Homo sapiens: one gene and its partners. The protein of the gene in region 2 interacts with the protein of the main gene of each other region in a pairwise test. Each region holds a gene or a part of one and is shown on either strand. Other genes may lie near its edges.

What was found.
Region 1: the proteins of TMCC2 (region 2) and SMO interact in a two-hybrid assay, tested with the Homo sapiens proteins (one large-scale study listed by BioGRID and IntAct).
Region 3: the proteins of TMCC2 (region 2) and DIP2A interact in a two-hybrid assay, tested with the Homo sapiens proteins (one large-scale study listed by BioGRID).

The regions. Positions count from the first base shown.
Region 1 is NC_000007.14:129,198,508-129,202,158, reverse strand, and holds part of SMO (protein smoothened precursor), read right to left. Parts: intron 1-3,651. UniProt on the Homo sapiens protein: G protein-coupled receptor which associates with the patched protein (PTCH) to transduce hedgehog protein signaling. Binding of sonic hedgehog (SHH) to its receptor patched prevents inhibition of smoothened (SMO) by patched.
Region 2 is NC_000001.11:205,241,362-205,245,012, reverse strand, and holds part of TMCC2 (transmembrane and coiled-coil domains protein 2), read right to left. Parts: intron 3,509-3,651; coding exon 2,969-3,508; intron 1-2,968.
Region 3 is NC_000021.9:46,531,763-46,535,413, reverse strand, and holds part of DIP2A (disco-interacting protein 2 homolog A), read right to left. Parts: intron 3,288-3,651; coding exon 3,177-3,287; intron 1,891-3,176; coding exon 1,767-1,890; intron 1,411-1,766; coding exon 1,301-1,410; intron 830-1,300; coding exon 727-829; intron 1-726. UniProt on the Homo sapiens protein: Catalyzes the de novo synthesis of acetyl-CoA in vitro. Promotes acetylation of CTTN, possibly by providing the acetyl donor, ensuring correct dendritic spine morphology and synaptic transmission.

The DNA of each region.
Region 1 (3,651 bases), on a different chromosome or scaffold from region 2:
ACAGTACCTGTCATGTAGTAAGCGCTCAGGAAATGTTAACTCTTATGATTATTTGTCTGAGGCCTCTGACTGCTCCCAGCCTTCAGAGTATATTCCAGGGTGCAGAGCAAGTTCCTGCCAGTTAAGAAGCAATGTCCTCAGGCAACAGTTCCCACTTGACTCAATTCAGTCACCAGTTGGCCAGGCGCAGTGGCTCACACCTGTAATCCCAGCACTTTGGGAGGCAAAGGCGGGCAGATCACCTGAGGCTAGGAGTTCAAGACCAGCCTGGCCAACAAGGTGAAACCCCGTCTCTACTAAAAATACAAAAATTAGCCGGTCGTGGTGGTACATGCCTGTAATCCCAGCTACTCGGGAGGCTGAGGCAACAGAATTGCTTGAACCTAGGAGGTGGAGGTTGCGGTGGGCTGAGATGGCGCCACTGCACTCCAGCCTGGGCAAAAGAATGAGACTCTGCCTCAAAAACAAAAAAATAAAAAACAAAAAACCCAAAAACAGTCACCAGAAATTCTGAGTACATAGGTACTTGCAGAAAACAGAGCAGTGGGTGCCAGGGATTGGGGTGAGGGCAGGATTTGCCTACAAAATAGTAGCATGAGAGAATATATGGGGGTTAAAGGACGATTCTCTATCTTGAATTCAATGTGGTGGCTGGTTACATAAGTCTATGTGTTTGTCTAAACTTAGAACTGTACAAGAAAAAGTCAATTTTACTGGATGTTTACTTTTATTGCACAATATATTTAAAATGGGGGGACCTCTCTGGAGTAAAATGCTTTAGAGAAACATCAGGCAGTTAATAAAAAGGTTGTGTCGGCTGGGCATGGTGGCTCAAACCTGTAATCCCAGAACTTGGGAGGCCGAGGCGGGTGGATCACAAGGTCAGGAGTCCGAGACCAGCCTGGCCAACATGGTGAAACCCTGTCTCTACTAAAAATACAAAAATTAGCTGGATGTGGTGGCACATGCCTGTAATCCCAGCTACTCAGGAGGCTGAGGCAGGAGAATCACTTGAACCCAGGAGGCAGAGGTTGCAGTAAGCGGAGATGGCACCACTGCACTCCAGCCTAGGCGACAGAGCAAGGCCCCGTCTCGAAAAATAAAAAAAATAAAGGTTGTGTCAGCCAGGTGCGGTAGCTCATGCCTGTAATCCCAGCACTTTGAGAGGCTGAGGCAGGCAGATCACTTGAGGTCGGGAGTTTGAGACCAGCCTGGCCAACATGGTGAAACCCTGTCTCTACTAAAAAATATAAAAATTAACCAGGCGTGGTGGTCCACGCCTGTAGTCCCAGCTACTTGGGAGGCTGAGGCAGAAGAATTGCTTGAACACAGGAGGTGGAGGTTGCAGTGAGTCAAGATCACGACAGTGTACTCCAGCCTGGGTGATACAGCAAGACTCATTAAAACAAACAAACAAACAACAACAAAAAAAAAACTGTAATTTTTCTCAATCTTTTTATATCTGTGGTAACAATCAGGTTTTAAAAATGTCTAATTTGTTTTCCTTTTTTTCCCTCATTGTGAATATTGTTTCATACCTTAAAAATAAAACTCCCCAGGAAAAAGAGAGATTATTAAATACATCTTCAAGGACAACTAAGAAATTATCTGGGGAAAAAATAAGGTGGAGCTTTACCCCATTTCTTACATAAAAGTCCAGATGGATAAAAAAATAACTACATTGTTTTTCTAAAAATTAAAGTTTTAGAAGAAAAGATGGGAAATGATTTTTTTTTTTGAGATGGAGTCTTGCTCTGTCGCCCAGGCTGGAGTGCAGTAATGTGATCTCGGCTCACTGCGAGCTCCGCCTCCTGGGTTCACGCCATTCTCCTGCCTCAGCCTCCCGAGTAGCTGGGATTACAGGCGCCCGCCACCACACCCGGCTAATTTTTTTTTTGTATTTTTAGTAGAGACGGGGGTTCACCGTGTTAGCCAGGATGGTCTCGATCTCCTGACCTCGTGATCCACCCGCCTCGGTCTCCCAAAGTGGGATTACGGCGTGAGCCACCACGCCTGGCCAGGAAATGATTTTTTAAACCTTGGAGTGGAGAAGGCCTTCTGAAATGACACAAAGCCTACACATCATGAAATAAAAGATTTAAACAAAAGACTTCAGAAAAATCGATACAAAAATCATAAGAAAAGTAAGATACTGAAAAAATGTATTTTCAATACTTATCACAAGAGCTAATTTCCTTATATGCACAAAGCTCCTCCAAATCAGTAAAAATTGCATAATTCTATAGACACACAGGCGAAAGACAAATAACAGATCACATTTTCAAATGTTTTGATCTTTATCACTGTGATAAAAAGTATAAAAGTTTAAAAAAAGAATATTTCGTTGTAGTTTATTCCACATTTGTATTATTAAGAGTGAGGTCGAACATCTCTTTATGTTTTTTTTATTTTTTTATTTTTTGAGATAGGGTCTCACACTGTTGCCCAGGCTGGAGTACAGTGGCATAATCACGGCTCACTGCAGCCTTCAGCTCCCCAGGTTCAGTTAATCCTCCCACCTCAACCTCCTGAGTAGCAAAGACTACAGGCTCACACCACCACACCTGGTGAATTTTTGTATTTTTCTGTAGAGACAAGGTTTCACCATGTTGCTCAGGCTGGTCTTGAACTCCTGGACTCAAGGCCATTTAATGGCCTTTAAAAACATAAAGAAGGCTGAGCATGGTGGTGGCTCACGCCTGTAATCCCAACAGTTTGGGAGGCCGAGGCAGGTGGACCACCTGAGGTCAGGAGTTCTACACAAGCCTGGCCAACATGGTGAAAACCCGTCTCTACTAAAAAACTACAAACATTAGCTAGGTGTGGTGGTGGGCGCCTGTAATCCCAGCTTCTTGGGAGGCTGAGGCAGGAGAATTGCTTGAATCCAGGAGGCGGATGTTGCAGTGAGCCGAGATCGCCATTGCACTCCAGTCTGGGTGACAGAACAAAACTCTATCTCAAAAAAAAAAAAAAAAAGAAAAGAAAATACCGTACTATAAAGAGTGTAGGGATAAACTGGCACTTTTATATTTGTTGGTAGGAATAAAAATTAGTAAACACTTGTGGAGATCACTTTGGCATTATCTACCAAAATTTTATACTAGTACTTCTACTTCACATGTTCACAAAGATAATATAGATTATTCATTGCAGCACTGTTTTGCAATAGCAAAAAAGTAGAAACAGCTTGAATCCATATCCATCAATAGGAGACCAACCAAGTAAAATAATGTACACCATTATAATAGAACACTATTCAGGGTTGAGATATAGTCACATGTTGCTTAACAATGAGGATATCTTCTGTGAAATGTGTCATCAGGCAATGTCATCTTTGTGTGAACATCAGAGTGTACTTACACAAACCTGGATGGTATAGCCTACTGCACACCTAGCTGATACAGTATAACCTATGGCTTCTAGGCTGCAAACCTGTACAGCATGTTGCTATACTGAATACTGCAGGCAACTGTAACACAACGGTGAGTATCAGTGTATCTAAACATATCTAAACATTGAAAGGCTACAGTAAAAATGTGGTATTATAATCTTAAGGGAACACCATCACATGTGGTCCATTGTTAACCAAAATCTCCTTCTGGGGTGCATGACAGGATGTGCATTGAAATGGAATGATGTCCAATGTTGTCA
Region 2 (3,651 bases):
TGCCACTGCAAATTATCTTTCCATTCATTCCTTGTCTGTCATGCTCTATGAGTATACTCTGACCTTTGTCTTCCCTATCCCACCCCCCAAATTGTAAACTCCAATGCCCTCTCCTGTCTCTCTCACTCCTCTTTATTCTTAATGTACCTGCTCCCTCATTCCCTCAGTACCCCCATCTCCTTTTCTCCACATTCATCAGCCTTCTCCTATCCCCACCTCCTTCTCTGCTAGCCGAGGTTTCAAGGTCCAACCTTTTGAGCATTCTCTGACCCAAACAAACCCCCAACTCCTTTGTCACCCTTACATGCCCTCCCAGCAACCCCCAACCCTGGATTAGCCTGATAATCGTTCAGCTCTGTTCCTACCCTCTGGCTAGGACCACTAGAGAGAAAACAAATCGCAACCACTAGGGTGCTGCCAGCACAAATTACCAGCCTCTACAACACCAGACAGGTCACCCGTGAGTTCCTGCTCAGAGCCTTGCTCTGCCCCAAGCCAAAGCTTTACTGCCCTCCTCAAGCCAGCCCTTCCCACCTCCCCTCCTGCTCTCAATAAACACTTGCACCTTTGGTTTCTTCCCCCATAGAAAATAAAAACAAAGTAAGAATTCATTTCTGCCTCCCAGAGGTGACTCTTTGTGACCAAGGACGATGCTGACTTCTGGATCTCACACCCTTTCACCTACTCACTGACCTCACCCCAGTGAGAATTCCCCTTCCTCACTGCTATCTTCGATCTCTGCCTAATAGGGACCTCTCCAGCCAGCATGGAGGTGGGCTCAGGTGCTTCCCAACTTAAAAAAACCAACAAAACCAGACTGCCTCCACCTGATACCCTCCTTCTTCCCAGCCAAGCTACACACCTGCCTTCACTTCCACCCTCTCCTTAATCCACAGAAACTGGCTTCAGGCCATGGTTCCCAATGACAGCCACTGCTTGCTACTGCCTGTGCACATTTCCAAACCCAGATGTGACCTGCCCCTTCTATGCATTTCACTCTGATTACTTCCTCCTCCTTCAAGCTCATTTTCCTTTTGCTTTGCTGCAAGTTTACTTCTATCCATCTGACTGCTCTCTCTCGGGCTCCTGGTGCTTGGCCTGTCACTTACATGTCAGCTGGGTCTGTCCACAGCCTCCTTCTCATTCGACACATCCTCCTTTGAAGATCACACCCACACCCATGATTTCAACCTCAGCGCCAGCTCCCAGAGCACTGGCCCTGGCCCAGGCCCCTACCCCACAGACCCAATTGCCAGCTGGTCCTCCCTAGCTGGACAGCTCCCAAAGGCACTTGCAACTCAACAGGTCCAAAACTGAACTCATCACCTTCCCCCCAAAACATGCTCCTTCTCCTGTGATTCCTCAACTAGAGAATTCCCCCATTTTTAAAGCCACTAAGCCCATAACCTTAGAATCATCCTCTACGCCTCCCTTTCCTTTGCCTCCTATTCACTTTCTCACCTACTACTTCTGACTTTCACTTCCAAATGTTTTCTGCACTTGGCGCCTTCTTTCCATCCCCACTGCTGCAGCCTAGACTACTGCACTAGCTCCAAAGTCTCCTTGACTCCCGTCCTGCACTCCCTTCCCAATCTACTGATTTTTTTTGTTGGTTTTTTCTTTTTTTTTGAGACGAAGTCTCGCTCTGTCTCCCAGGCTGGAGTGCAGTGGCTCGATCTTGGCTCACTACAACCTCCGCCTCCCAGGTTCAAGCAATTCTCCTGCCTCAGCCTCCTGAGGAGCTGGGATTACAGTCGCCCACCACCATGCCTGGCTAATTTTTGTACTTTTAGTAGGGACGGGGTTTCACCATGTAGGCCAGAGTGATCTTGAACTCCTGCCCTCAAGTGATCCACCCACCTCGGCCTCCCAGAGTTCTGGGATTACAGGTGTGAGCCATGTGCCTGGCCCCAATCTACTCTTTATATTGAGACCTAGAGGAACCTCGTCCTGCCAGTTTCCTGCCTAGCACCCTTTGATAGCTTCACACTACTCCCAGAATCAACATGGCAAGGCCTTTTGTGATGTGGCCTCTGCCTACCTGTCAATCCCCAAAAGTGCTAGATGCTCTGGCCATAATGAACCCCCAGTAGCCCCTAGCACCAGCTTGTGTGCTTTTGTACATACTATGCCCTCTCTTCCCCCTTCCCCTCTCCCAGTTCTTCCCTGGCTAAATTATTCAAGATTCAGCTCAATGGTTTCCTCAAACAGGTCTTTGCCAGCTCCTCGCTCTCTCCTCAAGTCCCCTCTCCCTTGAAGCTCCCACAGCAGCTCCCATCTCTCTGTCCATTCACCCACTTGTACCCCCTCTAGAGTGAGCTCCACAAGGACAGCAACACTGGCTTGTTCATTCTTGTAGCACAACATAAGAATTCAATAGATACTTGTTACACGAATAAAAGAACGAATATATAAATTCATGAAGTGCTAAACTAGCTTTTCTCCTTCCCAAATCACCCTTCATGGATCCCCTATCTTCTTTGGTTGGTGCCAATAGTAAAGATGATACTATGCCAGGCTCTATTCCAAGTATTTTACATATATTAACTCATTTAGTCCTACAACTGTACTATTATTATCCTCATTTTCAATTGGTGAAACAAGCACAAAGAGGTTAACTGAGTAAGTGGCAGAACCAGAGTTGCTTCCAGTCTGTGCTTTAAACTACTATACCTATTGCCTCTTGATAGCCCATTTAAGGAAAACAAGTCAACATTAATATCAGCATGAGCAAAACACAATTTTGAAAAACAGCCCTAAGGAAACAAAAATTAGCCATCCTGGGAATCATCTCTTGTTTTTGGCCTAGTCATACCCGACTCCTTTAACCAAGGTAGATAACTCTGCAGACGGTGGGGTGTCAGTATCTGCCAGGGAGGGCCCCTGGCTCAGCTCCCCAGGTCTCAAGGCCCCTCAGCGGATGGCCCTTGCCTCTGAGTCTCCCCCTGCCCCAGAAGGCCCATCTCACCTTGTCCCCGATGCCTTCGGCCTCCTCAGCCAGGAGGTACACGTTGCTGCCGTCGGCCAGCAGCAGAGCAGTGTCGGTGGTGGAGGAAGAGCGGGGACGGCACTGGTGCTGGTGCAGGATGGCGGCCAGGCTGCTGTCCTGGGGGGCCTTGCGCAGCAGGTGAGGGCTGCCACGCTGGGGCTCCAGGGAGCTACTCTTGGTGCGCCGGCTGCTGCTCCCGCTGCTGCCGCCCCCACTGCTGCTGTGCAGGCTGGCGCCCCGCTTGATGGAGGGCCGGGAGCGGATCTGCTGCAGCACGCGGTTGAAGGCGGTGGGCCGGGCGGGCAGGTCGTGCAGGGACATGGCGTAGGAGACGCGATGCATCTCCGGAGAGCGCTCCTTCTCATCTGGGGAGTCATGGTCGGACATACCCTGCTGCTGCTGATGCTGCTGGGAATCCTGAGACGTCTGGTGCTCCCTTTCCCGAGACCGACGGCGGCTGTGGAACAGGTGCTTCAGACCGTGGCCAAACATGGAGCCCTCTGACAGCTGCTGGATTTTCTTAAGGGGGAGAGATGAAGAACCCTGGTGAGTGGAAAGCTCTTGATTGCCTAGTCAGTAGGAGGGTGAAGGTGAAGGGTCTGTCCTTGGTAGACTGGCATAGCTAATGCAGCCATCTGAACCTGGAAGATCTCTGTGGATGG
Region 3 (3,651 bases), on a different chromosome or scaffold from region 2:
AGACATACCATTCAATTTCACTCAGTAGTTTTGTTCAATTCTAGTATTACAATGTAAGAAAACTACTGAGTCCATTTTTACAGTTTTTAAAATTGTCACAGTGTACCCCATAAATATATACAATTAGTACTTATCAATTAAATAATATTAATTTAAAGATATCTCAAGTTAAGTATCTGACATTTGAAGTAAATCAGGTGCTGACTATACTTTATCAACAGATCATCTATAACCATAAAGATTCTACTTATATATTTATATCCATGACAGCTGAGGTCAAAACTACAGTCATAGATAAAGTAATAGAAAACTAAAAGTGTTTTCCTCTTTTTGAATGAAAAATGCCCTGACCCTCAGTATGTCACAGAGTAAGCCAGCCCCCCAGGGCAGGCCTGTGAACCCAGCACTGTGTATAAATCAATCAGTGGGATATAGGTTCCATGTTCCATAAAATCAACATCCATGTGCATTTACTGAAAACAACCCTGATGGGGTTGTCTGGACTCTGCTAAGAGACACCGTGTGCCCTCTTGGCCAGCACAACCACAGAGACCCTGTAAGCATGCTAAAGACAGTGCATCTCCCTACCTGGCATGACCCGGATTAATGGGCAAAGGCACTACCCAGGGGTGGTTTTGACAGGTGCAGTGACAGTCACATGATTAGGTACGTCAGGTATCTGTGTGAGGCTGGAGGGGCCACCGCCCCACCCCCGAGAGCCCTTACCTTCTGAGTACCCGCACGCCTGGGTCAGAGCCCGGCACTGTGCCAGCAGGGATGCGTGGGACACTGTGACCCCCACCGTACTGCCTTCTTTGCTGGTTTTATACTGAAAGATTTCAAGGAAAAAAACATGATGTGGTATTTCTAGAGGTGACAACAGACAGAATGGAAACTGGTAGAATCTTCAAAAGAAGAAGTGGTCAGTGTCTCTCCTCTAACCATCGGCCTCTAACCAGCAGCCCAGGTACATGGCAAAACCCTGGCCGCTGAGGGGATGCTTCAGTGGAAGTTGTGGCTCCTCTTGGGCAGGTGCCCGAGGGTAATGGTGCGCCATGGGCTCCCTCATAACTGTCTGCATCCCCAGGGAGCCAGTTAGGAGAGAATTAGATGAGAGAGAAACCTGGAAGGATCTGAGCAAGGATTTATATGACACTCTGTATTTCCAGGGCAGAGATAAAACAAGAACTCTTAGGCCGAAACTTAACAAAAAAGAATAGCAACTTACATTCTTATGAAAAGCAAGACTTAAGCCTGTGGGACATGTTTTTACATTCTCTAAGTTAGGAACAGTCATTACCTCAATGTAGGCAGTCCCAGTCCCTGTGTCCTGGGCCAGAGGGTGCCAGTCCTTTGGGGGCTTGGCTAGATGCTTCCCATCAATCACTAGCCAGGAGAGCGGGGGCCAACCTGTGACACACAGACAGGACACAGAACAGCAAGCAGTCAGAGGCATCTGCTCCCCACACTCGAAGCCTGCGCCTCCAACATGCAGCACTAGCTACTGAGCGAATAAGGAGTGCAAGTTTTAGTCTCATTTCATTTTATATAATTTAAAAAGGTACATCCGGCCAGTGGCTACCACATTAGACAGTACAGGTCGAGACATGAAGCCAGATGAAAACCGAGATTCACCAAGGACTCGAACAAGGGATCACTTTTGCTGAAGACCCAGACACCTCTGTCATGTTTAATTTCTGGAACACCATGCATTTAACACAGACCACAGTCAGAACACTGACTCCCCTTCCCTTGGGAGGCCTCACCTTTGAAAGCTGCCACCTCTCCTGTCTGTGCCTTGGGGAGGCCTTTCTGACAAGCGTCTGTGGTCAGGGCCAAGAAGACTCCACAGCTGCCCAGCAGAAACCCAACCTGCTGGCTGCCTGCATCCTGCAGAAAGCAGAGTGACCGTGTGGGGTGGGGTGCTCACAGCAGCCACAGCCCCAGACCCTTGGTGCTCCAGGCCATGCACAGAGAACAGATCTTTTTTTCATCCCTCATAAAACTTCCAGAATAATTCAGTCCCATTATTGATATATATGATCTTTTCACGGAAATAGTTCATGAAAATGTGACAACTATGTTTAAATTTAAAAGATAATTTTGGTTTGTATTTGTGTTGAAATATAAAGTTTAATGGGCTAATTTCTCAAAGTTTATTCTTACAAATGACATTTAGAAGCATTTTTAATAAACTCCAAAGTTAATGGCATTGAAATTTCTATTGAATCATGTTTGAAATTTACAAATTAATCTAGAGAGGCCTGGTCACCAACGATATTAAATTATTTCCACACAGAAACACATTTCCTTGTAGCCAAGTCTTCTGTGTCCCTCAGCAGTATTCTGTCATTTTCTTCATATAAATTTGACAAATCTCTAGTTTTACTCCTAAGAACCACTGCATTCAAATACCTGCCCATCACATATTATGCTTTGAGATACACTAGTTTGATTTGCAAATTTTACTTTTGGGATTCTTGAATATTTCTGGATAATGCTCCTGTTAACAACTGCCTGAATTCTGGGACAGGATGACAGAAAACTGATTTTCTCAAATTCATGCCTTGTCTATTTTTTTTCAGTAATCATATTATTGATAGTTATATCAAAAATGTTACAGATACCTAGATCAGCAAGACCCCACATTAATAATTTATCAGCAACAGAAACTGCCTACGGTCATATAAGTGAACAGAAATGCAAGATAATTTCCATCTCGTTTATTCAAAACTGCCACTGAGAAGTGAGCTATATCACTGTAATGATATATTTATCCCTAAGAAATAATAATTATTTTCTATAAACATATGGTTTTGAGGAAAAGTTGAACAAAATCTTATTGAATCATAATTCTATTCATTAGAGGAAAAAATGGCTATCATTTCTGTTGGGAAATTCATGTAGATGATAGAACAGCTCCACCTAATAAGAGTGTGGTGTGGGAGCATCACCAGCAAAACGGTTCTCAGTGCCCCTCTCATTAACAAGAAGAGAGGCAGGCAAAACGGCATCTGATTTCTCTTGAGTCCTGGCCAGCCTGTTGACTACTAGCTTTCTCTCCTCTGTCAAAACAGCTGCTTGCTGCCTGCCCACATGAGTGAAAAGGAAGTAAGATACTGCTGGTATCAAGTTCAGAAGCGAACCACACGGGACCTGAGCCATGGGTTTGCTACCTTTCTTGTTAATGGCACTTCTATGGGGACAGGAACCAGCTCTGCCAGGAGACACCCATAAAATGCAACCATGAACATCACAGGGTCACTATTCGGAAACACGAGCGCCACCTACAACAGGACAAAGAAATGAATATTCCAAATTTCCAATTTTTACAATATCTAGTTAAATTAAAAGCTAGTTATAAATAAAATTTTTGTAAGCCCCAAATATTGTAATAATTGTGCTTGAAACCATAAGGGACAAGTCCAAATAGTATTTAACTGAGTAGAGACAGTTGACTCAGGGCCTTTGAGAACACGCAACAATGAATAACCAATAAGTGCTGACTTTGTAAGACAAAATTTAAGCTGTATCTATATTCTGTACTTGAGGTCTGGAAATTTAGTTTCTAACAAGTTTGTTTGTTGAAAAGGGCAAGGTTCTCCTTCAAAATTTGGTTTTAACAGTGGTTGCCCAGAATGTAACCTATAA